Linked DNA regions of Homo sapiens. The protein of the gene in region 4 purifies or fractionates together with the protein of the main gene of each other region. This does not show direct contact. Each region holds a gene or a part of one and is shown on either strand. Other genes may lie near its edges.

Region 1 (3,500 bases), on a different chromosome or scaffold from region 4:
CAGTGGCACAATCTTGGCTCACTGCATCCTCCACCTCCCGGGTTCAAGCAATTCTCCTGCCTCAGCCTCTGCAGTAGCTGGGATTATAGGTGCATGCCACCACGCCCGGCTAATTTTTTTTTGTATTTTAGTAGAAACAGGGTTTCACTGTGTTGCCCAGGCCGGTCGCGAACTCCTGAACTCAGGCAATCCACCCACCTCGGCCTCCCCAAGAGCCGGGATTACAGGCGTAAACCACTGCACCCAGCCCTGGCCAACCCTTCTTAACAAGTCCAGAGCTTTTCCAGAAGGGCCTTGGGTTGGCAGTGGCCCAGGGCTTCCACCCCTTTGGAGTGACTGATTGATTTCTGCGGCCCGGACTGTCTGTGCGCAGGTGTGGCCAAAAGGTGTTTGATGTTGGCCTCTCCCTTTCACTCTCCCCCACCCCACGCCCCTACGTTTGGATTGGGTTCGAAGTGAAGAAGTCAGAAGTCAGAGTGGTCAGGGTTGCACTTGGTTAGCAGTAAGTCCAGCCTTCTGTGTTCTCATTCTGGTTCTGCAGACTCAGAGGAGTTTGTCCCTGTGGGGGGAGGGAGGAGTCCGTCCCTTGGAGGAATGGGGAGCTGGGTTGATGCCAGAGATAAGGCCTGTGGGCGGAGGGAGAAGGGTTGAGCAATCTCGCCCTGGAAACAGAGCTGACCTGAGCTCTGCGTAGCTCTTCTGACCTACGTACTGGAGGATTTTTCCCGACCGTGAGGAAAAGAACCAAATTCTGGAGCTGGGGACACTTTGAGGGGTCATCCGGCAGAGTGTCCTGAAGGCCAACTCCAGCCAGTGCTTCTGGGGTGCTCTAGGAAGGCCAAGCCCATGCGTGCCCTCTCTCGGCAGGGAACTGGATGGTAGTGCTGGAAGGAGCCCGCATGTGGCACTGGACACAGCCCTTTTTGCTTGAGTGCGTTGGGAAGGAAATTCAGACATTAGGGCCGGGCACAGTGGCTCACGCCTGTAATCTCAGCACTTGGGGAGGCCAAGGCGGGCAGATCACTTGAGGTCAGGAGTTTGAGATCAGCCTGGCCAATATGGTGAAACCCCGTCTCTACTAAAAATACAAAAATTAGCCGGGCATGGTGGCGTGCACCTATAATCCCAGCTACTGGGGAAGCTGAGACACAAGAATCGCTTGAACCCAAGAGGTGGAGGTTGCTGTACTCCAGCATGGGCGATAGAGTGAGACTCCATCTCAAAAAAAAAAAAAAAAAAAAGAGAGAAATTCAGGGCCAGGCGTGGTGGCTCACACCTGTAATCCCAGCACTTTGGGAGGCCAAGGCGGGTGGATCAGGAGGTCAGGAGATCGAGACCATCCTGACTAACACAGTGAAACCCTGTCTCTACTAAAAAGTACAAAAAATTAGCTAGGCTTGGTGGTGGGCGCCTGTAGTCCCAGCTACTTGGGAGGCTGAGGCAGGAGAATGGTGTGAACCCGGGAGGCGGAGCTTGCAGTGAGCCGAGATCGCGCCACTGCATTCTAGCCTGGGTGACAGAGCGAGACTCCGTCTAAAAAAAAAAAAAAAAAAAGAAAGAAAGAAAAATTCAGACATTAGTCTCCCACATTCCCGCTCACCGTGCCCCGAAAGCTCCAGCTTAAAATACGCCTTCTTGAGGAGACTTGGGCTTCCTTCCAACTAACTTACATTGGAGTCTCCCCCAGGCACTGCCAGCTTGCAGCTCTGGGCTCTGTGCCAGGATGGCAGTGCTGGCATCCAAAGCCCTCCCTTGCCAGGAACAGGGGAACTGGCTGTCTCCACTCAAGCTGAGGAAGGGTCTCTCTTTTGGGATTCAGGTGAGCACAGTTTAGGGTGTGGTCATTAATGAAGGCTTACAGTTCCCCACCTGTAAGAAACTGCTCTGCACACCTGGTGTTTCCCCTTCACCCCAAAGATGGAGCTGAAGGCATCTGGAAAAACCACAGTGCCAGGCAAGAAGGATCCCTGGATGTCTGTGCTCAGCCAGAGCTGCTTCAGCCACCATCTTCTGCCTTGGCCATCACGGTAGCAGAGGTTGTCTGGGGCAGCCTCCACCTCCCAGCATGAGACTCTGGGTTCTTCTTTTGCCCAGACACCTGCAGTTCTGGCAGTCACTGAACTTGGTCTGGAGACCCCAGCTTTGAATCTCTCCAAGTGTGCCAACAAAGCCAGGTTCTGTGTGCTGGCTTCTCTTTCCTGCCTGTCCTTCCTCTCTACCTCGGGTCTTCACTCAGTGCAACCTTCTTATTTCCTTACACTGTTGCCTCCAACCCTGAAGCATCAGAAAGGGACCTGTTCCCCTCAAGTCCTGGAATTGGGCTTAAGGCTTTGTCAAGTGGTACAAGGAGTAGAGAGCCCAAGAGAGCCCAAAAAGAGCCTAGGGGCTCGCAGTACGATTTGTGGTTACCTCTAAGGAGAATCTGGTTAGGTCCAAAAGATCAGATTATATTTTATTGGGGGTTGATCATATTGAAGTTTTGTGCATTATTTTTTTGTTTTGAGACAGGCTTTTTGCTGTGTTGGCCAGGCTGGAGTGCAGTGGTGCAATCACAGCTCACTGCAGCCTCAAACTCCTGGGCTCAAGAGATCCTCCCACCTCAGCCTTGAGTAGCTGAGACTATAGACGTGTGCCGCCATGCCTGGCTAATTTAATTTTTTTTTTTTTTTTTAGAGACAGGGTCTCACTGTGCTGCCCAGGCTGGTCTCAAGCTCCTGGGCTCAAGCGATCCTCCTGCTTCTGCCTCTGCCTCCCAATGTGCTGAGATTTCAGGCATGAGCCACGGTGCCTGGCCTGTGCATTATTTGTTGCTAGTAGCACCCGGGGTCTGGCAAATTCCTGAGTTACTTTTACCCTTATCCTAGGAAGGAATGGAGGAGCTTCTCTTTTCCCACCTCCACCTCACCATCTTGTCTGAGAGAAGCCAGGCTCCTTCTTCTGGCATCATTAAAGGTTAAAAGGTGACGGGATGAGGGAACTCAGATCAGGAAAGAAACCAGATCCGAGGGTTTCCTGCCCCCGACTGCTGGCAGAGACTACAGAGGGAGGGCAGAATCTGTACCTGGGCTTCAGCAGCTTGGGGGACCCTTCCCCCTGCATCAGATAATCCTGGGAACCCCCAGGACTTTGAAAAGGGTCAACCCATTGTCTCAGCCCACGTTTCACTGTACAGACTTTTGAATTAGGTGCTCTCAGGTGGCTGTTCTCTATGAAGTTTGCGAAGTGACAGTGGCTGGAGTGTCACTGGGTGTGACAGCATCATCTTTATAGCACACATGGAACTGTGCTCACCCGAGCACAGCACTTGGGAGTTATGTAATGTTATCAATTGTTCTGAGAGCTAATGAGGAAACTGAGGCACAAATAACTTGACCCACGTGGCAGGCCACCTTGTGACCTAGGGAGTGGGGCTCTTTGTCCCCAACTTCCGGCAGGGCCAAGATGCAAGATTAGCCTGTCTGCTCTGGAGGGAGTTTAGATCTGCCAGTCTCCTGGAGACC
Region 2 (3,500 bases), on a different chromosome or scaffold from region 4:
ATTGCTCGAGCTCAGGAGTTTGAATCCAGCCTGGGCAACATGGTGAAACCCCGTCTCTACTAAAATACAAAAAATTAGTCAAGCATGATGGCACGCGCCTGTAATCCCAGCTACTAGGGAGGCTGAGAATTGCTTGAACCTGGGAGGCGGAGGTTGCAGTGAGTGGAGGCGGAGGTTGCAGTGAGCCAAGATCGTGCCATTGCACTCCAGCCTGGGAGACAGAGTGAGAATCCGTCTCAAAAAAAAAAAAAAAAACAATTAGGACATGGCCATTGTGAGGGGGGGATAGGCTGGGAATCTTGCTTAGCCCTGATGGCCCCGTGTGTGCTTCTACCACCACACCTGACTCTACACTAGACAAGTCTATCATGGCAAAAGGCTCCTCTTGTTTCAAGGTCAACATGTATGAGCATTTCTTTCTCCTTGCTGGAAATGAACAGTACCTAGCCTTCTGATTTGAACAAACCAACTGCAAGAAGAAAAGTAGAACTGCCTGGGTATTTGATAGTAAGGAATTACTGTTAATATTTTATGTGTGATAGTGTTATTGTGGTTATGTTAAAATTAAAGAGATACATATTGAAGTTTGTGGATCAAAAGATATGAGATGTTAAGATTTCGCTTTAAAGCAATCTAGTGAGGTTGGAGAGAAAGGTTAGGAGAGTATACAAAAAATAAGATTGGCCATTTGCTGATCATGGTTAAAACTGGTTGATAAGTACTTTTTTTATTCTTTCTACTTTGGTGTATGTTTGAAATTTTATATAATAAATTTTCTAAAAGAGTCTAGGAATCAAGGGGGGAGAGAAAAAGCAGTCCTGTCTAAGGCTTCTCTGAGGGGGCTGTTTTTTTCCTTTCTCAGCTTACCATTGCCCAGAAGATATCACAGGCCATTCAATGTGAGCACCAAGAAGAAAGGGTATATCCATCCTATTTTTCTCTAAGACTACAGTCTTGGCCTCTGTCTCTGTCTGCCTCCAGAGAGAGATTTAGCTTTTGATCACCTCCAACAAACAACATCCTTTAGGATATTGAAACTGACAAAAGACAGCCTACAAAATCCTATGGTTTACATTAAAAGTCTGAAGGCATTGCCATGTTCCGGATCTGGGGGTTAACAGTGCATGACGAAGCACATACCCTCAGTAAGAATTTAATTTAGCTCGAATATGAAGGGATGCTTTATGAGACAAACTGGCAGCAGTTCCATGGGGTGAGCAGAGAAGTGAGACTATAAAACAGAAGACAATTTGCTATTTCTAAATTGCTCCCTCTCAAAAACTGTGGTGGGTGTCTTAAAATCATCTCGTATATCCTTTTACCCAGTAATCTCAATTCTAGGAATGTATTCTAACAAAATAATTGGGCAAGTCCACAAGGAGGTATGTGGACTACTGTTTATATCATGCCTTTGTTTATAATAGGAAAAAAAAACCAACAGAAAAACAAAGGTCCATCAGTAGGAAATAAAGTATTGATTAGGCATATAATGAAATTATATGCAACTTTTAGAATGCTGAAAAAGTATAGTACATTAGACTTCAGACATCAGCATTTAGTTTAGTATACTATACTATTAAGTAAAACAGTTTTAAAATAGATTTTATAAAATATCTTTGTTTTAAAACAAAGTGTGTTGTAAGAATAGAAAAGAACTAGAATATACAATAAAATGTTAATTATCGTGTTTTCTGGTTAGTAAAATTAAATGTAATTTTTTTTTTTTGAGACAGAGTCTCGTTCTTTCGCCCAGGCTGGAGTGCAGTGGCACGATCTCAGCTCACTGCAAGCTCCACCTCCCAGGTTCACACCATTCTCCTGCCTCAGCCTCCCAAGTAGCTGGGACTACAGGTGCCCGCCACCATGCCTGGCTAATTTTTTGTATTTTTAGTAGAGACAGGGTTTCACCATGTTAGCCAGGATGGTCTCGATCTCCTGACCTCATGATCCACCCACCTCGGCCTCCCAAAGTGCTGGGATTACAGGTGTGAGCCACTGCGCCTGGCCAAAATGTAATTTTTACCTTCTTTATGATTTTTTGCATGGTCTAAATTTTCTTCACTGAGCAGGCAACATATTGGGACCCCCACATATACAAAAAGAAGCTATTTATTTTAAGAGAATAATAACAAAACCATAAAGATGTCTAAAGGAGGAAAGACAAATTGCCAGAGCTGGACAGAGGTCAAAGTGACAATCCAAGCAAATAACCCCAAACTCTGACAGCCAAGGAGGGTCAGCACCCTTTCACTTTTTTCAAAAGACGTCTTATACTGAGCAACTACTCTGTTCTAGGCCTTGTTCCGGGTCTTGGAGACAGAAATAAATGGGACACAATTTCCTGCCCTCAAGGTTTTCAGCCTAATTGGAGGAAAGGACAGATTTACCAAATAAATGAAATGCTCTACTGGGGAAGGGCAAAGTACAGTGATGCTTAGGGGGAAGGGGCTGATTCCACCTGGCTGGCAGAATGGGGAGACAGGGGCTGATCAGAAAAAGTGTCAGAGGAGGTATTGTGGGCTGAGAGTCTAAAGGCGAATGGATGCCCTTCCAAAGCTCACAGGCCATGCAGGTGAGCTTTGAGGACAGTCTCCCCAGGCATTTGGGTTGATGTGAGCAGCTGAGGGAAAAGGGATGGGCATTGAGCAGCCTAATCTTCTTGAGGGGGAACAGAAGCACAGATGAAATATGGGGTGAGGAGTAAGGCTAGGGAGTAGGCAGGCCCACAGTATGGAGGGCCTGGAATGCCCCTACTGAAGCATCTGGTTTCCAACCTGAGGGCACAGGGGAACCTCTGAAGGGTCTGCACCTTCCCAAGATTAATCAGCCGGACAACAGTGTAGAGAAGTAAGCACTACTGGGCCTTATCTGGATGCCTGCCGTGGACTAGCCACTGGGCTTAGCACACAACGGCCCTAGACAGTGGAGAGTGTTGTTATCTCTATTTTACGGGTGAGAAAACTGGAACTCAGCGTGGTTTAGGAATTTGCCCAAGTTCTCACAGATAAGAAGTGGCAGAGCTCAGAGCTCAGAGTTCATCCTGGCTATCTGACTCACCCTCAGGTTCGGTGCTGTGAAGACGCCACGGTGAATCTAAAATAGTTTTCTCCCGAGTTCTCCATGATATTTACAAACAACCTCAAACTCAACCACTCAATTCCTACTAAGAGGAACTTGGTTGACGTGCAGCAAATGGGTTATGGGGAGAGCTTTCTCAGCCACAAAATTAGAACTTTATGAAAAAAAACCTGGAAGAAAGTAAGGTGAGACTGGATCTGTCAAGGGGCTTTATTTTTTTGAACTCAAGAGAAACCATTAGGGAGTAGGCAATTTGTTTTTGCTTTTTTTTACATAAGTAGACACAGGTGGGAAACTGTTTAGACGGGCTCACATCACCCCATAAACAAATAGGTTTGGTCCTAGCCTTTCTATTAGCTCTTAGTAAGATTACACATGCAAGCATCCCCATTCCAGTGAGTTCACCCTCTAAATCACCACGA
Region 3 (3,500 bases), on a different chromosome or scaffold from region 4:
AAGTTCCAGCTGGGTATAGTGGGTCATGCCTGTAATCCCAGCACTTTGGGAGGCCGAGGTGGGCGGATCACCTAAGGTCGGGAGTTCGAGACCAGCCTGACCAACATGGAGAAACCCCGTTTCTACTAAAAATACAAAATTAGCCACGTGTGGTGGTGCACGCCTATAATCCCAGTTACTCGGGAGGATGAGCCAGGAGAATTGCCTGAACCTGGGAGGCGGAGGTTGCAGTGAACTGAGATCACACCACTGCAGTCCAGCCTGGGCGACAGAGTGAGACTTCATCTCAAAAGGTCAGGAGATGAAGACCATCCTGGCTAACATGGTGAAACCCCGTCTCTACTAAAAATACAAAAAATTAGCCGGGCGAGGTGGCGGGCGCCTGTAGTCCCAGCTACTCGGGAGGCTGAGGCAGGAGAATGGCGTGAACCTCGGGGGGCGGAGCCTGCAGTGAGCTGAGATCGCGCCACTGCACTCCAACCTGGGCGACAGCGAGACTCCGTCTCAAAAAAAAAAAAAAAAAATTATATTCCAAGACCTCCCCACACTCAATGGAAAGAGACCAAATCTTTCTGTTAATGGCAGCTAAATGGAAGGGCAGTTGGGTTTCCCTTGGCATTCAAGCTGGCCTAAGCCCAAATCCCTGGGAGGCTGCCAGCAGGTGTTGGGTAACTCTGGTCACCAGCAGTTGCTTCAGATGTCACTGCAGTAACGGGGTATGACACAGGAGACCCAGGCAAATGTGAGGGTGGGTTAACTGTGCTGTGAATAGGAGTAACCTCAGATGAAAGCTAGGGCTTACTCAGCTACAAAAAGTCAGAAAGCTTCCCCTGCCTTCATGAGGTGCCATTGTAAGCTAGTGTGATGGTAAAATTCCCACAACACCCATCTGGGCAGCCCATGTTAAGTTGATAAAGTCAAGATCTTTTCTAGGGTTGATACATGGAATTAATCCCCAAATACAAACTTTGACTGTTTCAGAGATGTGAATACAGCTGTGATGGAGTTGCTCATCATGGCTTACGCACTGAAGACTGCCTGTGCCAGGAACATTATTGGGGTCATCCCCTACTTCCCCTACAGCAAGCAGAGCAAGATGAGGAAGAGGGGTTCCATTGTGTGCAAGCTGCTAGCATCCATGCTGGCGAAAGCAGGTGAGTGTGCGCGGGGGCCCTGGGGTTCCAGCATGATCCTTTAGGGCTCTTTCCTAGTTGGACTTAGCTCATACCTCAGATATCCAATCTGGGATCTGAGTGTTTGTTTCCTTTTGAACAGTTTTGGCTAAGGATATGTGAGCTCGGTTAGAAATTCTTTTTTTTCCCTTATTCGCTTTGTCCTACTTTAGAATACCATTGCTTTAGTGTCTTCTCTTCTCTGTCATCTGTCACATATTTTCTATTTCATCTTGTCATCGCTAAATTCTTAGCTGGCAGTCTTGGCATTCTTATGTGATCTTTTGATCTTCAGGTCTAGATTTCTATATCTGCTTTGTTAGCTAAATTCCATTTTTGTTCATAGTATTCAAGCTGGATTTTCTTTTACTCCCTCTCCCCCACCCTTGCCTTTCTACATAGTGGCTCATTTTCATTGCTTTATTCTCCTTGTGTGGCGGGGGCACGCTTTCTGGCCTGTAAATCAATGTAATATTTTACAATTGGGTTTCTATTCATCTGATGTCTGTTCTAAAACTTTAACGTATATTTGGGTCCTCGGAAAGAAATGTATGGTCCTCCCTCAATGTCCTTATAGGATTGGTTCCAGGAACCCATCTCCCGCTTCCCCGGCTCCTCAGCAGATACAAAAACCCAAAGATACTCAAGTCTTCCATATAAAATGCCATAGTATTTGCATATAACCAACACAGTCATCTGTAGATTATTTATAAATACCTAATACCATATAAACACTATATAAATTGTTGTTATGCTGTCTTGTTTAGGGAATAATGATGAGAAAAAAGTTTCATACCTGCTCAGTACAGACACAACCATTGTAGGCCTAACTACCTTTTCAGTCTGTGTTTCGTTGAATCCACACGTGGAACCCATAGATCCAGATGGTCAACTGTATGTGAATTTCATCCTCTCCAAAAAACTATAGTGTTTCTGGAAAGAACAAGTAATACTGGTTCTACACCCTGGAAGTTTTGCTGTGACCTTTGACCATTTGCAATGTGTTTATATATATGTACCTTTTCCTCTTCAGTACTCTTGATTATAAGAGTATCTCTTCATTGTTTTTCTATAAGAATACTTGAAACATTCTTTGTTACATACAGAAATTATTCTAAGCTTCAATATCTTTGTGTTATATGAGTTTCTTTTCTTCTAATATGTATATTACTTTGCGTTTGTGTTCTTGCTACTTTTTGCCTTCGCTACAGTTCTTTATCCTTTCTTTTAAGATTCTGTAATCAAGGCCTTACTGTTTTTTCCATCTCTTCGGTATTAATTCCATATTCATATTTTTGCTTCTGCCACATTATTCTTTTCTCAATTTTCTGGACCAAGCCAAAAGTCAATAATTCCCACTTTCTTAGCTTTAGTTCTTTGTCCATGTGGAAGGTTGTAGCCTTCTCTACATTAAGGCTTTATTAAGGTTAACAATCAAGCCTGTGACTGCAGTGCTTAATCACAGTACCCCGTCTTCAGTCTGCTGGTAGGAAGCAGGAGTTGAGCATCTAGTTTAGGTCCACTGTAGCCATTTACCTGTAGGGGTGAACTTTGTAATTTTTTGTTTTAAAATTTCAGGTTTAACTCACATTATCACTATGGATCTTCATCAAAAGGAAATACAAGGCTTTTTCAGCTTTCCTGTGGACAACCTTAGAGCCTCACCTTTCCTGCTTCAGTATATCCAGGAAGAAGTGAGGAACCACCAGCAAACACCCCATTGTCCTCAAAAGAGATCTTATTTAGTTTTTCTCTGGTATCAGATTTCGTTACTGGAAGGCACATCAAATGAGCTCTCCCTTAAGTCACAATGCCTGAGGCAGCAGACAGGGTCAGCTTTAGTCGTGGACGATCATAGCTTTAAAAGACACTAAAAACAGATTTTTTTTCTACGTATCTTTAGCAATTTGCTTATGTTTTCTAAAATGAATGTTTTAAGAATTATTTTTAAAAAATTCTTGACGTAGGAGTGCTTTTTCCAGTGATGTTAATTGATAAATATTGAAAAATCTAAAACTTGTGACTAAAATTCTAGCATATTTGATGACTAGTTTGGATCATTATAAGAGGGAAAACTTGAATACCAGCATCCAGGTGTTATTTTCTGATAACTTTTCAGTATTTTCTATTTTTCCTTCAAATCTAGATTCCAAATTACAGAAATGCAGTCATTGTAGCTAAGTCTCCTGATGCTGCAAAGAGGTAAGTAAGCTAGACATGGGTCCTGATCCCTCCTGAGTGCTCCCGAAGTCAGAATGAGCTGCTTTGGAATCCAGAGGCTGTCACTCGTGGCCTTTGAAAGCCCACTGGCTCTCATGTTAACCCCTC
Region 4 (3,500 bases):
AGATAACTGTATCTGTCATAATGAAGGTTGGAAACATTCCACGTTAAGCCTGGTACTTGAGTACTTTTTATATTTCTTCACTTGCCAGGTTTTCTTTACTAGGAATATTTTGGTAAAGTATTTGTGTTTTTTAGTATTTTGAGGTTGTCTTTGAAAACATTCTTAGGGCTGGTCACAGTGGCTCACGCCTGTAATCCCAGTACTTTGGGAGGCTGAGGCAGGTGGATCACCTGAGGTCAGGAGTTCAAGACCAGCCTGGCCAACATGGGAAACCCCGTCTGTACTAAAAAAATACAAAAAAATTAACTGGGCATGGTGGCGTGTGCCTGTAGTCCCAGCTACTCAGGAGGCTGGGGCAGGAGAATCGCTTGAACCCAGGAGGCGGAGGTTGCAGTGAGCCAAGATTGCGCCACTACACTCCAGCCTGGGCAACAGAGCGAGACTCCATCTCAAAAAAAAAAAAAAAGAAAAGAAAACATTCTTAGACTATAAACCCTACAATAGAACTGAGTCTTGCTGTCCCTTCAAGGTAACAGTAGTTGGTGTAATGGATAGAATTTTCTTTTTGTTTTATTTTAGTTCAGCAATCAGCAAACATTGGGAGGCTGAACTGGCTACCCTCAAAGGAAATAATGCCAAACTCACTGCAGCCCTGCTGGAGTCCACTGCCAATGTGAAACAATGGAAACAGCAACTTGCTGCCTATCAAGAGGAAGCAGAACGTCTGCACAAGCGGGTAATTTCAGGGCTGATGTCTATAGGGATTTAGGGCTAACAGGTTTTCTTGATCAGAAGAAATTTGCATGTAGATTCAGCACAGGGATATCTTCTAGTTCTAGGATGTCAGAACATAGATATGGGTTGTATGATATGCATTTGTTTGATTAAGAAAAATATTTTCCATAGTTTAATGAGAATGAAGAATATACGCCTTTTGAAGTCAACAAACCATGTTGATTCCCCATATTATCCATGGGGACTAGCAGTAATGCACAAGTACATAAAAGCACTAATGTATTAGTGCTAGTTGATTAGTACTGACATGGTAGTTAAAGTGTGTGCTGAGAAAAAATTCAGGGAGTAGTTTAATTAGAATTTTAGCTTTGGGTGTTGACGGTGAAGCGGGAATGCTTTTCTCCTGAGTTGTCCTGGGGAGGGGATTCTCCATTTCTGGTTTACAAGACCAGAGTATTCCAGAGTGCGAATTCCAGTTCTGCCGGTTATTATCTGTATGATCTTTGATAAGTTATTTCCTTCTTCCAGCTCAGTATTCTCATCTGTAAAATAGGAATAATAAGTACTCTGTACAATTCCTGTGAAGATTAATTGAATACTTAATTGGCATGTAGTTGCACTGAGTCAAAAGTATGTATTCTGTACAATTCCTATGAAAATTTGTTGAGACACTTAAGTGCCGTGTAATTGCACTGTCTCAATGAGTTGCAGTGAGTCAATGAGCTGCTTTTATTATTTTCTTTTTAAAGAAGGAACAATTTGAAAAATACAAGTAGAAAATTATTAACTTTGGTAATATTAGAGATTTGGTGCAGAAAAAGAAAACCAGAAATTTCAATACCATTAATATCAGAAGCCCAGATAATTACTTGTAAAGTGTTTTAATGCTCTCAGGCCAAGAGTTTGAGATTAGCCCAGGCAACATGGCAAGACCCCATCTCCATTAAAAAAAAAAAAAAAAAAAATCTTTTTTCTTTTTTTTTTTTAATTAACCAAGCATGGGGACACACGCCTGTAGTCCTAGCTACTTGGAATGCTGAGTGGGAAGGATTGCTTGAGCCCAGGAATTGGAGGCTGCAGTGAATTATGATGGCTCTACTGCACTCTAGCTTGGGTGACAGAGCAAGACTCTGTCTCTAAAAAACAAAAAAAAAAAAGAAGAAGTTTTTTTTTTTTTAATTCAAGGCATAGAAGTGCTTCACCCAACAGATGCCTTTAATTTCTCCTTTTAAAAAAAATTCCAAGCTGGGCACATTGGCTCACACCTATAATCCCAGCACTTTGGGAGGCTAAGGAGGATGGATTGCTTGAGCCCAGGAGTTCAAGACCAGCCTGGGCAACATGGTGAAACCCCATCTCCACTAAAAATACAAAAATTAGATGGGTGTGATGGCATGTCCCTATAGTTCCAACTACTTAGGAGGCTGAGGTGGGAACATCACTTGAGCCCAGGAGGCAGAGGCTAAAGTGAGCTGAGATCACGCCACTGCATACTCCAGCTTGGGTAACAGAGCAAGGCCTTATCTCAGAAAAAAAAAAAAAAAGAAAGAAAAGGAAATGCAGTTGAGACAGAGTGGAAATGTTAGAAACTTGAGTAAATGTTATTCTATCCTGTGTGTAAAAATTAACTTAAGAGAGGTGGGGGAAAGGAGAGTTGTTTAATGGGTATAGACTTACAGTTTTGCAAGTTAAAAAAGTTCTGGAGATCTGTTTCACAGCAATGTGAATATAAATACTTAACACTATTGAACTATACACTTAAAATGACTAAGATGATAAATTTTATGATATATGTTTTTTACCACAAAAAAAAATTTATGACAATTGTCATAGCCAGAAAATATTAAGGAGCTATCATGTCTCCTTATTGTGTAATCTCTGCCCTTAAGAAATTTTCTCTTTAAATAGTCAATTGAATATTAAAGAACTTAAGAAACATAATATATTTATTTACTCACATATTTTCAGTTTCCATTGTGCTTCTTTCCTGTAGATCTGAATTTCTATCAGGTATTGTTTCCCTTCAGCCTGAATAACCTCCTTGAGCAGTTTTTGTACTCCAAGTGTACTGCCAACAAATTATCTCCACTTTTATTTAGATAAATTTTGTCTTGATTATAAGTTACATTTTACTGTTTTTTCAGAAAAATGACTAGTCATTTTTAATTTTGTATTGGACATTGCAAATGAGATGTTGTAGAGACCACAGATTTTGTTATTTTTGAATAATGTTGAGTTTTTGTTTCAACAGGCAGTTATTTGGAGATTATCTTGAATTTGTGGAGTTGTGTACTTATGCTTTGTTAGAATTCATGTATTTCAATTTTGCTGTAACCCTAGGGTAAATCACATTGTCCTAGGAAATCTTTATCTCTAAGACATAACCCTTTCCAAAGTTTCACTGCAAAGCTTGAGGTATTTACCAAGGCCCTCTAATTTAGCAGGGACTAGCAGAACTTCAAACTGTCATCTCTGTTGAGCACCATCGCAGTTTAGTTCTTTCAGCCTTCCAGCTCTTTTCCTACTCCTAGTTGTGCCAGGTGTTCTGCAGAGTCCTAAAATTCTCAGGCTTCTCAGAGAAATAAGACTATGGATTTCTGCTTGTTCAGTCAAGCAATGCAGCCAGACTGCAGAGTACCTTCAGGCAAAAAGATGTGGAAATCACCCAAAGTGACTGCTTTCTTGCAGTCTTTTGCCCAATTTGGTTACTCACCAGGTCCTTCAAACAGTTGACTTTTACATTTTGCCCACAATTTGCAATTGTT
Region 5 (4,266 bases), on a different chromosome or scaffold from region 4:
AAAGCATTTAGGTCAGAATAACTTACCTGGAAGACTTAAATATACACATTTTTGGCAAAATAAAGTCAGTCTGCATACTTCAGATTTACTGTATACCTGAGATTTGGTGCATACTTGAGGTGTTAATATTCATTCATATGCTGGTACGTGGCCTAGGATTTTCATCTTTTGTGTGGTGATCCAGAGGAGGTGTTAGTGGGTGCTTTGTGAGAGCTTTACTTTTAGAAAATGTAATGTTTAAGAAACAGAGTTAACTGCTGGAATGATAGAGGCAGCAAGCCAGTGTGCTCTAGCATCTTTAGGCTCAGTATTTGTGTTATCCCCAACTTGAGTGGATTTGTATCTTGTACTTGATTACTGGATCTGAGTTGTGTTCATTCTTTTTCTAAAGATATACCATCAATGTTTGTGGTACCTGAGAGACATATACATATTAAGAATTATAATATTTAAACATAAAACTAAGTGGAATGCCCTTATGCCAAAAAGCTAGTTTTCTTATATGATGTGAAAAGATGTGAAAGCTCTAGAGGCTTCCTGTTACTACACAAATAAATGACAAACAATTTCTGTAGGAACATAAACAGCCCACAACTTTTGATCATTGAAATCAACTGTCATACATCCCTGAAAGTAGCATGTATCTGTCCTACCCTCCTCCCCCTCAAAGAACTTTCTTTATAACTCCAGTGACTTGATAGAACCAAAAAAGACTAACTGAAGTAGGTTAGAATGACTTGCAACGTGAAGGTCATTTTCACCATTTTTCAGCATATTTGCCCTTTGACTTTAGCAGGTTTTGGGGCAACCTAACATCCCAGGAGCTTACATACATACACACAAAAGGCACTGTCCTTAGTGGCACTTGAATGAATATGTGGCAGTGTGCCTTTTATTTAAGCCTAAGGTAGCCAGCCATTTGAAAGTACAATTAAGCTGGGATTGGCCATTTTGTATCTTTTCCCAGAAGTTCAATATATCCCCAAAATACTCATTGCCACCAATTGCCTTCCAACCTAGGAACCCTCTTGACAGTTCTCCGCTCTTACACAACTCTTAAAGCTGACCCTTGGAAGGAAGAAAGGAGGCTTTGGATTTTTGCTGGGATTGGGAAACTTAGATGGTGATAGTGTAGTAAAGAGACAGTTGGAAAAGCTTTTGAAGTAAGGATGAGTGAGGATATACACTTTAAAACACGGGGCTAAACCACCAAATTGTCAGTTTTTTGGATGGCCAAATTGAGATGAATAACCTGAATTAAAAATATAATTTAAAATGGTTAATTAAAACATTAGCATCATCATTTCTCCTTTAATGAAATTCAAAAAATGCAACAATATATGAAAGCAGAACTACCGGTAAATCATTTTTCAAATTTTGGGTCATATTTGGGTTAAATTTCAGATGTTAACAAGTTCTCAACCTTGGGATCACTGTAAATATAAGTTCAACACACCACACCCATAATGCAATATCACAGATGGGCTTTCATAAATATGTACACTTTAGCCAATTGGAAAGATCACTTCCTTCAAATTTTATCTAAGAAATAAAGTGGGTTTGTCAAAACAACATGAAAGAGAAATGAAAGGTAAGGAAGGGCACTATGGCAAAAAGCCAGATTATGTATCTGCTGTCATCTTTTAGCCTCATAAATTTGGAATAAACATAAAATAGGATAATGACTGATATTTTCATAAACATACCAGAACTTATGCACCCAAATGAACGTGGTCCTTTAAAGTAGTCACCTTAAAAAGCCATACCCATATTCTAATGATGCTGCCATTACTCTACCCACTTTGGACTTCTGCTTTTGAAATGACTTTCAAAGTCCACAGTACAATCTCTGAATATCCTCAATGGTAGAAAATCATGATCCTATAAGATTAAATTTTTAGGAATTTAGAAATTGCCAAAAGTAATTTTAGATCCACACTTGGTAAAACATGTGGTAGTCAAGATGAGTACCACTTTCTCTGGTTAAAAACAAACAAACGAACAAACAAAAAACATTTTCAAGTGCTACTACACAATAGGCACTTTGATAGGTGCAATTATAAAATAATGAGATTGTCTCTTGTGGGATTTGTAAGGGACCTGGAACTGTTCTTGGGAATCTAGTTTTTTTCCCCTAATTAACTTTATTGAGGAATGATTTATGTACAATTACCTGCATTCATTTAAAGTGTACAAATTGGTGAGTTTTCAGAGTTGTATATACCCCTGGAAGCACCAGCCAAAATCAAGTTATAGAATATCTCCATCACCCCCTCAAGAATGCTTGTTCTCCTTTGTATCCTGGAATCTAGTTTCAATTATGCTTGGAGCAGTGGTAGCCTTACATGAATAAGCACATAGCCTCCTGAAGAGAACACTTTAAAGAGCAATATATTTAGATAGAGAAGCTTCACTGATTTGGGAACAACCATAATGATTAACCCTTTGTGTTTAAACAGTAAAATACATTGAGTTCCAATGGCTTATGCTGTAAATAAACTCAGAATTGACTCCTCAAACTTATTTGATCCTTAAGAAATGACATTGTATAGCACAGAGGCTCTGGTGACTAGGCTGTTATCAGGGAGAGGGACAGTAAAGAAAAACCACTAACCTCCATAGAGAACAGAGGGGAGGATTTTGGACTCATAAGAACCCACGGTGGCAGAAGCAATGGAAAGAAACTCTAATAGGAAGATGGCAGCTAGCTAGCTGAATGTGTTCAGGTCATTTGAAAGTCACATATTCAGATTAAGTATTTCCTGTATAAGATCTAGTCATGGTATTTAAAGTATAGCCTCATCATGTTGTGGCCACACCTTGTAGGACCTCCTTGTAAAACATATTAAGCAATCAGTTTAAATATCCAAGGCAAAGTAACCTGTAGTCCAATAAATCAGTGATAACTGTGCTTAGTGTACGTGGGCAGGAGAAGCAGCCAGAATTCTCAAGTGTCTTAACAGGATAAGTGGGACCAATGACACCAAAATGAATATTATGTGAGCACATGAAGAGTCCTCTAAACCCAAAGGGTTAACACATTAGTCTGTGGTTTAATGTAAAAGGAAATTCAATTCGATAAATTAACTTTAAAATTAAGTGTTCAAATTACTACCTTAACAAAGTAAAAGTAAAGCTGTATCTTATCTCAACAGTAAAGACACAGACCTTCCCCAGGACACTTCAGATAAGGATAAACACATCCTTCTCAAGCAAATACATTTTAGTTTGTTTCTTATAATAGGAATGCACACCAGAGGTACTATTCAACAGAACAATAGTTAAACTCTTCACAGGATTCTATTTATTCCATATTTCTCAAAAATGGGGTTGAAATTAGGGATGGGAGTTTCTTTCTACTCAAAACAATGAATGCAGTCTGCAGCTACAAACTAACATTTGGTAGCAGGAAGGAGAATACTAGAGAATACGAGCTATGTGTAATTCACCTTCTAAGCCTAGTTGGCAGCCCCAACCACATATCACCATATAGAAAGTGTGTCAAATTTCAGTTTAAAATGATACATCTTGAGCATAATCATGAAAAGGGAAAATTCCAAATGTGTCTGTGTAAATGACACTGGCTTTGAAGACTATTTTCAAAGTGGAAATCTCTTTGAATAACTATCACTTTTATTTAAACACTTTCTGTAAGTGCACAGTGTCAATCTTAATGTATTAAAAAGAATCTTGTACAATAAAATAATTTTGTGTATTTTTAGCTTCAGTATCAACAAAATAAAGTATTTACTTTTTTCCCCTGAAATGTGTGACAACTCAGATTTTAAGGTGTTATGTTCCTCCCTTTTTCAGTGTAATCATTCGTAGCCACCTATTATTAACATTTATGAACAAAAGACTTCACAATGTAATTTGCCTAGCAGAAACACTAATGGGAGACCTCCACAGTCCAATATATTTTGAAAAGTATATGAGAATAAATATTCTGATTTTTATATCTTCCATTAAACAAAGCTGACTAGTATTTAAGAATTTAATAATAATTTATAAGAACTATGAGATGAAGTAAAGAGACCAATACAGTTTTAAAGCTATAGCTTACAACATTGAAAAACCTTAGAGGCCCAATCCTGGAAATTAATTATTCTTCATTGAGTACTTAAAAGTATGATACATATTGCATAGAACAGTTGGAATCTGTGAGACAGTGAGAAGACATATAAATGGAGGTTAAGCTGGTCATGATTAAACCAGTGTCATCTGAGGACATCTGAGCAATAATTCCAGAATCAGTTGACGTTTCTC
Region 6 (3,500 bases), on a different chromosome or scaffold from region 4:
TGTTGAATTGAAGAGTAGGAAATTTTGACTTCCTCCTTCCCCACCTCTTGATGATGGGAAGAAAGCGTGTCCATCTTTCACTGCAGACTTAGAACATTTCTAGTTAAACTTTTTATTCCAAATACATAGTTAACATTACTGCAAATTAAATTGTCATTGTATAGAGGGATAGCAAGGACAGTAATCAGTCCTGAGATTGCTTTGATATTTGGAGGAAAGGTGACACTACTAAATTTGAGATTTACTAAACCTGGTCATTGGTGAGAGGAAAAGCTGTTTCTCTCCCAGGCATTTCACCTTGAGGGACAAATTAAGATTTCCCAAGAACATTGGAATCTGAGCAGAAGAGTAAAGAATGAAGTATTGCCAAAAATAAGTATTTGCATATAACATACACACATCTTCCCATATACTTTAAAGTATCTTTCAATTACTTATAACACCTAATACAGTGCCTACACATCATTTCATTCATGTGGATTCAACATAGTACTTGCTGTGAAGAATATTCAAGTTTTGCTTATTTGGAACTTTGTGAATTTTTTCTTCCAAATATTGTTGATCCATGGTTGGTTTAATCCACAGATGTAGGACACAGAGATACAGAGGGCCAACTCTACAGTATACTAGAAATTTTCTTGAAAGCACAATAAACAACAAAACTCTGTCCAATTCTTTTTTTCACTACAGTGTTAATTCTACAAATTATATTCTGTTTTGGGATAAATCATTTTAAAACAGAAGGTTGACCAAATATTATTGTGGATTACCTGAATAATGTCATTTTATAATAATTTCAAACCTGATCACATGAGTATATATAGAATTATCAGGACCCTTAAGTTATACTTCACAACATGAGCATTATATTGGAAAAATATTGCCTATGAAATTTGTCAACTAAGAAGATTTGTAAACTTTGGTAAATTAGTTTCTGTACCTGAACTAAAATTTTTCTCATATTTGGGAATATTTTTCCTTTCTTCTCACATGAAATTCAGTTTTAATCAGGCTTAAGAGTGTCTTTAATACCTTTTAAGAAATCCGCAGTGCTTTCTTGGAGCAAGAATAGGTCTAATATTTAGCTTTTTATTGTTTTTGCTATCTTGACTTCTTGGCTTCTGGTAACTAAAATCAATAGTTTCTCTAGACTGAAGATGTCCAACATTAGTTAGTGGTATCTTTTTCTATGGATTGTGCATGATAACTTTGAAATTTCATAAATATTATTATGAGTTTTTATATATTAAACATGAAAAAATGGCTAAGTAAGCTAATAATAATAGTTAATACTTATAGAGTGCATGCTATGAACCAGGCGCTATTCTGAGGGCTTTACCTTTAATCTTCACAACTTTATTAGTAGATACTATTATTATTCCCATTTTACAGATGGGGAAGTTGAGGCTTAGAGAAATTTAAAAACTTGTTAAAGGTCATTTACCAAGTAGCAGAGCCCAGATTTGAATCTAGGTAATCTGGCTCCATAGTCTATCCTCTTAACCTCTACATGCTTTTATTGTTAGAAAAAGGGAAAAAACAAAACTATGTTGAATGTATAGAATTGATTTTTAAACTCTTATTCAGTAAACTTTGAATATCAACCAATCAGTATTTAAAGGTTTCCTTTTACTTTTTTTCTTTTTAATGTGTGTGTATGTCCTTTTCAGTTTGTCTCCCAGTCTAACTGCCAGCAGTTCCTGAACACTGTTTGGTTTGGACAGATGTCGGGTTACCGACGCAAGCCCACCTGTAAGAAGATAATGACTGTTTTGACAGTAGGCATCTTTTGGCCAGTTTTGTCACTTTGTTATTTGATAGCTCCCAAATCTCAGTTTGGCAGAATCATTCACACACCTTTTATGAAATTTATCATTCATGGAGCATCATATTTCACATTTCTGCTGTTGCTTAATCTATACTCTCTTGTCTACAATGAGGATAAGAAAAACACAATGGGGCCAGCCCTTGAAAGAATAGACTATCTTCTTATTCTGTGGATTATTGGTAAGTATCAAGTTAGTTTGAAAGGTTTTGTCTTTATTTAGCCCACTGATTCTTTCTTGATTGATGGCATTGTGAATATTGGGTTCAATTTGCAATTTTACACTGTTCACACCACAAGAATTTGAACACTTCCATGATCACTGAAGACTTAACTAACATGTCTGTAAAGATAAATGTTCCTGAACTTGATGATAAGGAAGCATCTCTCTTATTTAATATTTCTTAAATACATGGAATTTTAAAATTATTTATTCTCAGACTCTATGGTTATTCATGATTGTAAAACAGAAAATCAGCTTTAACACATGAATGCTTTTTTGGTGTAAGAATATGAAGTTTTCTTAGGTATTTTGAAACAATCTATTTTATACTGTTGTGCATTTTTAAAGTTAACTATTCTATTTCATTTATAACATTAGTTTTCCTTTTAAGAACCTATGAGCTTTTTGGTTTTTGTTTTGTTTTGTTTTGTTTTGTTTGAGACAGAGTCTCGCTCTGTCGCCCAGGCTGGAGTGCAATGGCACAGTCTTGGCTTACTGCAACCTCCGCCTCCCGGGTTCAAACGATTCTCCTGCCTTAGCCTCCCAGTAGCTGGGATTACAGGTGCGTGCCACCACACCTGGCTAATTTTTGTATTTTTAGTAGAGATGGGGTTTCACTTCATTGGCCAGGCTGGTCTCGAACTCCTGACTTCGTAATCCTCCTGCCTCAGCCTCCCAAAGTGCTGGGATTATAGGCCTGAGCCACCGTGCCCGGCCTAGAACCTATGAACTTTTGCAGATATATCTTGCTTTATCTCTATTTTGGAAACATTGTTTAAATTTAGATTTAAAGGAGTCCCTGGTGACTCATTCCATAAATCATTTCTTTGTAGAGATAGCCAGATCTCTTTAGAAATGATAGTTTTTTAAAAAGTATAAGACATTTTATTCCTGAAAATTATTTTTATAAGTATTACACTGTATAATAAATGTCTTAAATCATCTTCTACAATTTTTACTCGTCTTGCCTTCTGTGTGTCGGGGTGCGTGTGGAGAGTTGAGGTAGAATCACATTATCTGTTTATGGTATTTTAAAGATATTTTCTTTATTTCCCTCTGTATCTTCTACCTTGTTTTTAACCTCAGCACTTCCCATCTGTCCGTCTACTATTTGCTATAGAGTAAAAGGGTAATAAAATTTAGTCTTATCTATGGCACAAAGTACTGAGTGTATTTATCTTTTGATTACTACATTCCTGATTGTTTCAATTATTTAGTACTTTCATAAGTTATTTCACAATGTTCAATTTTAGCTCTTTAGCTATACAAATACTTTTTATATTTTAGAATGTTTATTTGAAAATCAGTTAATTTCAGGTAACTAGATTGTAATTAGAGTTTTGCTTTTAACAGTATTTAATCTATGATGCATTAATGTTTAAAATTAGGTAGATAAAATAATACACATCTAAACTCTAGGTTAAAGAGAATTAAATAATTCCTTCTTGTTAA
Region 7 (3,500 bases), on a different chromosome or scaffold from region 4:
TTTTTGTATTTTTGGTAGAGACAGGGTTTTGCCATGTTGGCCAGGCTGATCTTGAACGCCTGGCTTCATGTGATCTGCCTGCCTCGGCCTCCCAAAGTGCTGGGATTACAGGTGTGAGCCTTCACATCCAGCCAACTCTGCACCTTTTTAAAATAAAAAGTAGAAAATAATTTCAGTTTCAGAATTTTTTTTATAGTTATAGGTGGGTTTACTTAACTTAGTATGGAGTAGGGCAAGTGCTTTTTAAAAAGTATGTGTAACCCTTCTTTTAGAGTATATTGTTCTGTTAGACATTTACTCAGCTAGATCTGTTAAAAGTCAGTCTCCATTACCATACAGTCAAGCAATTGCATTCCAAAGTATATATCCAAAAGGACTGAAAACATATATTCACATAAGAATGTCTACATGAATGTTCATAGCAGCAGCATTCACAGTAGCTAGAAAGTAGTAACAACCCAAATGTCTGTCAGGTGATGAATCAAAGACAAAATATGTATGTATGATGGGATATTATTTGATAATTTTAAAAGCCTACAGTACTGATATATGCTACAACATGGATGAACCTTGAAGAAATTATGCTGAGCGAAGGAAGCCAGTCACAAAAGGCCATATATTGGTTCATTTATATAAAATGTCCAGAATAGGTAAATCCATAGGAGAGAAAGCAGATTAGTAATTCCTTAGATGTGGAGATGAGGATTTATGAGGGAATGGTGATTACTAATCAGTACCAAGTTTCTTTTTGAGGGCATAAGTATGTTTTAAAATTGTTTGTGGTGATAATTGTACAAATCTGTGAATAAACTAAAACCATCCAATTGTGTACATGAGTGAATTGTATATGAATTATATATCAATAAAGCTATTTAAAAATGAAACTTTAAAGTGTTGAATTAACATGGAAGCTTGATGTATTGCATCTGTTATTCTTAACTTTAAAGCATAGCAGTTTGAGAAAGAACACAGTTTCATTTTTCTCTCAATATTTCATCACAGGTATGCTTTATAGTTTGGCTATCATTCCATGTTTTCCCTTAATTTTTTACAGAACATACGGAAGTTGATATTGTATCTGCAACCTACTTTATGTTTACAGTTTTTTTGCAGGAAGAGAAATGAGGAAATATAGTTTGTCTTTGAATTTAAACAGCTTGATTCTCTGTGCATTGTGCTGTTCCCTGTATCTCTTCTGTGTATAAGCCCTGAACTTCAAAAGTAGCTCTGCAAACTGAGGAAACATAACAGAGGAGGGTTGGAATATACTCCTACTTACTTATCTACAATAATCCATCCCTCCTGAGTAAATGACTTTTGTCTTTTGAGAATAAATGTCAGAAGTTAAGACATTTTTTTTTTTTGAGGTGGGATCTGGCTCTATTATCCAGGCTGGAGTGCAGTGATGTGATCACGACTCCTGCAGCCTTGACTGCCTGGGCTCAAGCAGTCCTCCTACCTCAGCCTCCCTAGTAGCTGGAAACACAGATGCATACTACCACATCCGGCTAATTTTTTTGTACTTTTGGTAGAGATGGCTTTCACTATGTTGCCCAGGCTAGTCTCGAACTCCTGAGCTCAAGTGGTCCACCCGCCTCGGCCTCCCGAAGTGTTGGGATTACAGACGTGAGCCACAATGCCCAGCCAAGACATGTTTTCTCAACATTTTTTTCCTGCTATTCATGCAGAATCTGGAATTCTGTAAAAGAAAAGCCATTTTTTTCATGGATAGAATTAATCGAAGTGTTACATTGAAACTTGTTGATTCTCGTTGTATGCAAAACAGAATATCAAAGCAATTAACTTACACAGATTGTTTCAACCTAAGAATGAAATAACTTACTTATCCTTTAGTGGTTATTTAACCCCCAACTTTCATTATTGATTAAGAATAAAAGGCTGGTTTAATCTGAAGACCAAAGGAATATAGGTTCATGGTGAACAATCTCTGGAACTACTTAACTGGAAAATGAAGTAGCTTAAAAAGGAAGAAAGTGGGAGAAAGAGCAAAATGCCACATCTATCCCTTTTAAAATGGAGCTTTTTCTGTTCTTTTTACTTGGAGTCTCACTCTTGTCACCGAGGCAAGCAGTGGCACCATCTGGGCTCACTGCAACCTCCGCCTCCCAGAGTCAAGCAGTTCTCCTGCTTCAGCCTCCCTAGTAGCTGAGACTACAAGTGCATGCCACCACATCCAGCTAATTTTTGTATTTTTAGCAGAGATGGGGTTTCACTATGTTGGCCATGCTGGTCTCGAACTCCTGACCTCAGGTGATCTGCCCGCCTTGGCCTCCCAAAGTGCTGGGATTACAGGCATGAGCCACCGAACCCGGCCTATTTTCATATTTAAAGTAGGGATCTTTTCAGAATAGAGTGATGTGCAGTATTTTTCTTTTCCTTCTTTTCTCTTTTGTTTTTTGTTTTTTTTGAGACAGAGTCTTGCTCTGTCGCCCAGGCTGGAGTACAGTGGTGCGATCTTGGCTCACTGTAACCTCTGCCTCCTGTGTTCAAGCATTCTCCTGACTCAGCCTCCCAAGTAGCTGGGATTACAGGCGCCCGCCACCATGCCTGGCTGAATTTGTGTGTGTGTGTGTGTGTGTGTTTGTGTATTTTTAGTAGAGACAGAGTTTCACCATGTTGGCCAGGCTGGTCTTGAACTCCTGACCTCTGATGATCCGCCCACCTTGGCCTCCCAAGTGCTGGGATTACAGGCATGAGCCACCATGCCCAGCCCCTTCTTTTCTCTTTTTATTATGAATAACTCTCAATTGCAATATATCTTGCCAAGTTTTGTCAGACCTAACTGGCTTAAAATGAACTGCTATTATTAAAGCTCATTGAGGCTGTCCAGAAAGGAAACAGTAATAGGAAATCATAATCTTGGTTGACATATGCAGAATAATTATCTATGGAATTAATAATCTAAAGAAATTAGAACCAATTTATTGAGTATCATTATGGTACAGGTCAGCATCTGTTGATAGCAGCAGCAGCAGATATCTTCCTGATTTATGTTTTGTGATGTTAGAAATGTGTTTAAGACAGATATACAAAATAAGTGTTATCTGAAACCCCTATATAATGACTTGTTGAATTATGATGTCATGTATGGCAATAATAAGCTGTGTCAGAAGTGCTCTCTTGAGTTCTTAAATTTCTTTTGTATCACACATAGCAATCAGTGGCTGCTCTTTCAGTAGCAGAGGGCAAGAGTCTTGGCACCTCTGTATTTCACTTCCTGAGTAACTGGCACATTTGATCTAGGAAATGCATACATTATTCAAACGTACAGTTTCCTTCTCTCGGCCTTTTTAAAAAAAGGAAGGATTGGATTTCCCAGACTAGTTTGTAAAACTTTAGATTATTCTATACTATAATAATATGTAGGGAGGGCATAATAGACTTTTATCTGAATGGGACTTTTTCATTTAGTCTAATGCCATAATCTAACAAGGAGTGTATTTAAATGAAGAAGGATCACATCGCTTATTAGTTACAGA

The links.
Region 1: the proteins of HOMER1 (region 4) and CDC42EP4 purify together in Homo sapiens (affinity purification with mass spectrometry; one large-scale study listed by BioGRID and IntAct). This does not show direct contact.
Region 2: the proteins of HOMER1 (region 4) and KIF5C purify together in Homo sapiens (affinity purification with mass spectrometry, with the first as the bait; one large-scale study listed by BioGRID). This does not show direct contact.
Region 3: the proteins of HOMER1 (region 4) and PRPSAP1 purify together in Homo sapiens (affinity purification with mass spectrometry; one large-scale study listed by BioGRID and IntAct). This does not show direct contact.
Region 5: the proteins of HOMER1 (region 4) and TRPC5 purify together in Homo sapiens (affinity purification with western blotting, with the first as the bait; one study listed by BioGRID). This does not show direct contact.
Region 6: the proteins of HOMER1 (region 4) and TRPC1 purify together in Homo sapiens (affinity purification with western blotting, with the first as the bait; one study listed by BioGRID). This does not show direct contact.
Region 7: the proteins of HOMER1 (region 4) and PALS1 purify together in Homo sapiens (co-immunoprecipitation; one large-scale study listed by IntAct). This does not show direct contact.

The regions. Positions count from the first base shown.
Region 1 is NC_000017.11:73,305,502-73,309,001, reverse strand, and holds part of CDC42EP4 (cdc42 effector protein 4), read left to right. Parts: intron 1-3,500. UniProt on the Homo sapiens protein: Probably involved in the organization of the actin cytoskeleton. May act downstream of CDC42 to induce actin filament assembly leading to cell shape changes. Induces pseudopodia formation, when overexpressed in fibroblasts.
Region 2 is NC_000002.12:148,881,727-148,885,226, reverse strand, and holds part of KIF5C (kinesin heavy chain), read right to left. Parts: intron 1-3,500. UniProt on the Homo sapiens protein: Microtubule-associated force-producing protein that may play a role in organelle transport. Has ATPase activity. Involved in synaptic transmission. Mediates dendritic trafficking of mRNAs.
Region 3 is NC_000017.11:76,329,917-76,333,416, reverse strand, and holds part of PRPSAP1 (phosphoribosyl pyrophosphate synthase-associated protein 1), read left to right. Parts: intron 1-981; coding exon 982-1,154; intron 1,155-2,750; coding exon 2,751-2,866; intron 2,867-3,318; coding exon 3,319-3,374; intron 3,375-3,500. UniProt on the Homo sapiens protein: Seems to play a negative regulatory role in 5-phosphoribose 1-diphosphate synthesis.
Region 4 is NC_000005.10:79,399,135-79,402,634, reverse strand, and holds part of HOMER1 (homer protein homolog 1), read left to right. Parts: intron 1-579; coding exon 580-736; intron 737-3,500. UniProt on the Homo sapiens protein: Postsynaptic density scaffolding protein. Binds and cross-links cytoplasmic regions of GRM1, GRM5, ITPR1, DNM3, RYR1, RYR2, SHANK1 and SHANK3.
Region 5 is NC_000023.11:111,767,511-111,771,776, reverse strand, and holds the end of TRPC5 (short transient receptor potential channel 5), read left to right. Parts: 3' UTR 1-3,766; downstream 3,767-4,266. UniProt on the Homo sapiens protein: Forms a receptor-activated non-selective calcium permeant cation channel. Mediates calcium-dependent phosphatidylserine externalization and apoptosis in neurons via its association with PLSCR1.
Region 6 is NC_000003.12:142,783,034-142,786,533, forward strand, and holds part of TRPC1 (short transient receptor potential channel 1), read left to right. Parts: intron 1-1,670; coding exon 1,671-2,007; intron 2,008-3,500. UniProt on the Homo sapiens protein: Forms a receptor-activated non-selective calcium permeant cation channel. Forms a heteromeric ion channel with TRPC4 or TRPC5 that has reduced calcium permeability compared to the homomeric TRPC4 or TRPC5 channel.
Region 7 is NC_000014.9:67,303,935-67,307,434, forward strand, and holds part of PALS1 (protein PALS1), read left to right. Parts: intron 1-3,500. UniProt on the Homo sapiens protein: Plays a role in tight junction biogenesis and in the establishment of cell polarity in epithelial cells.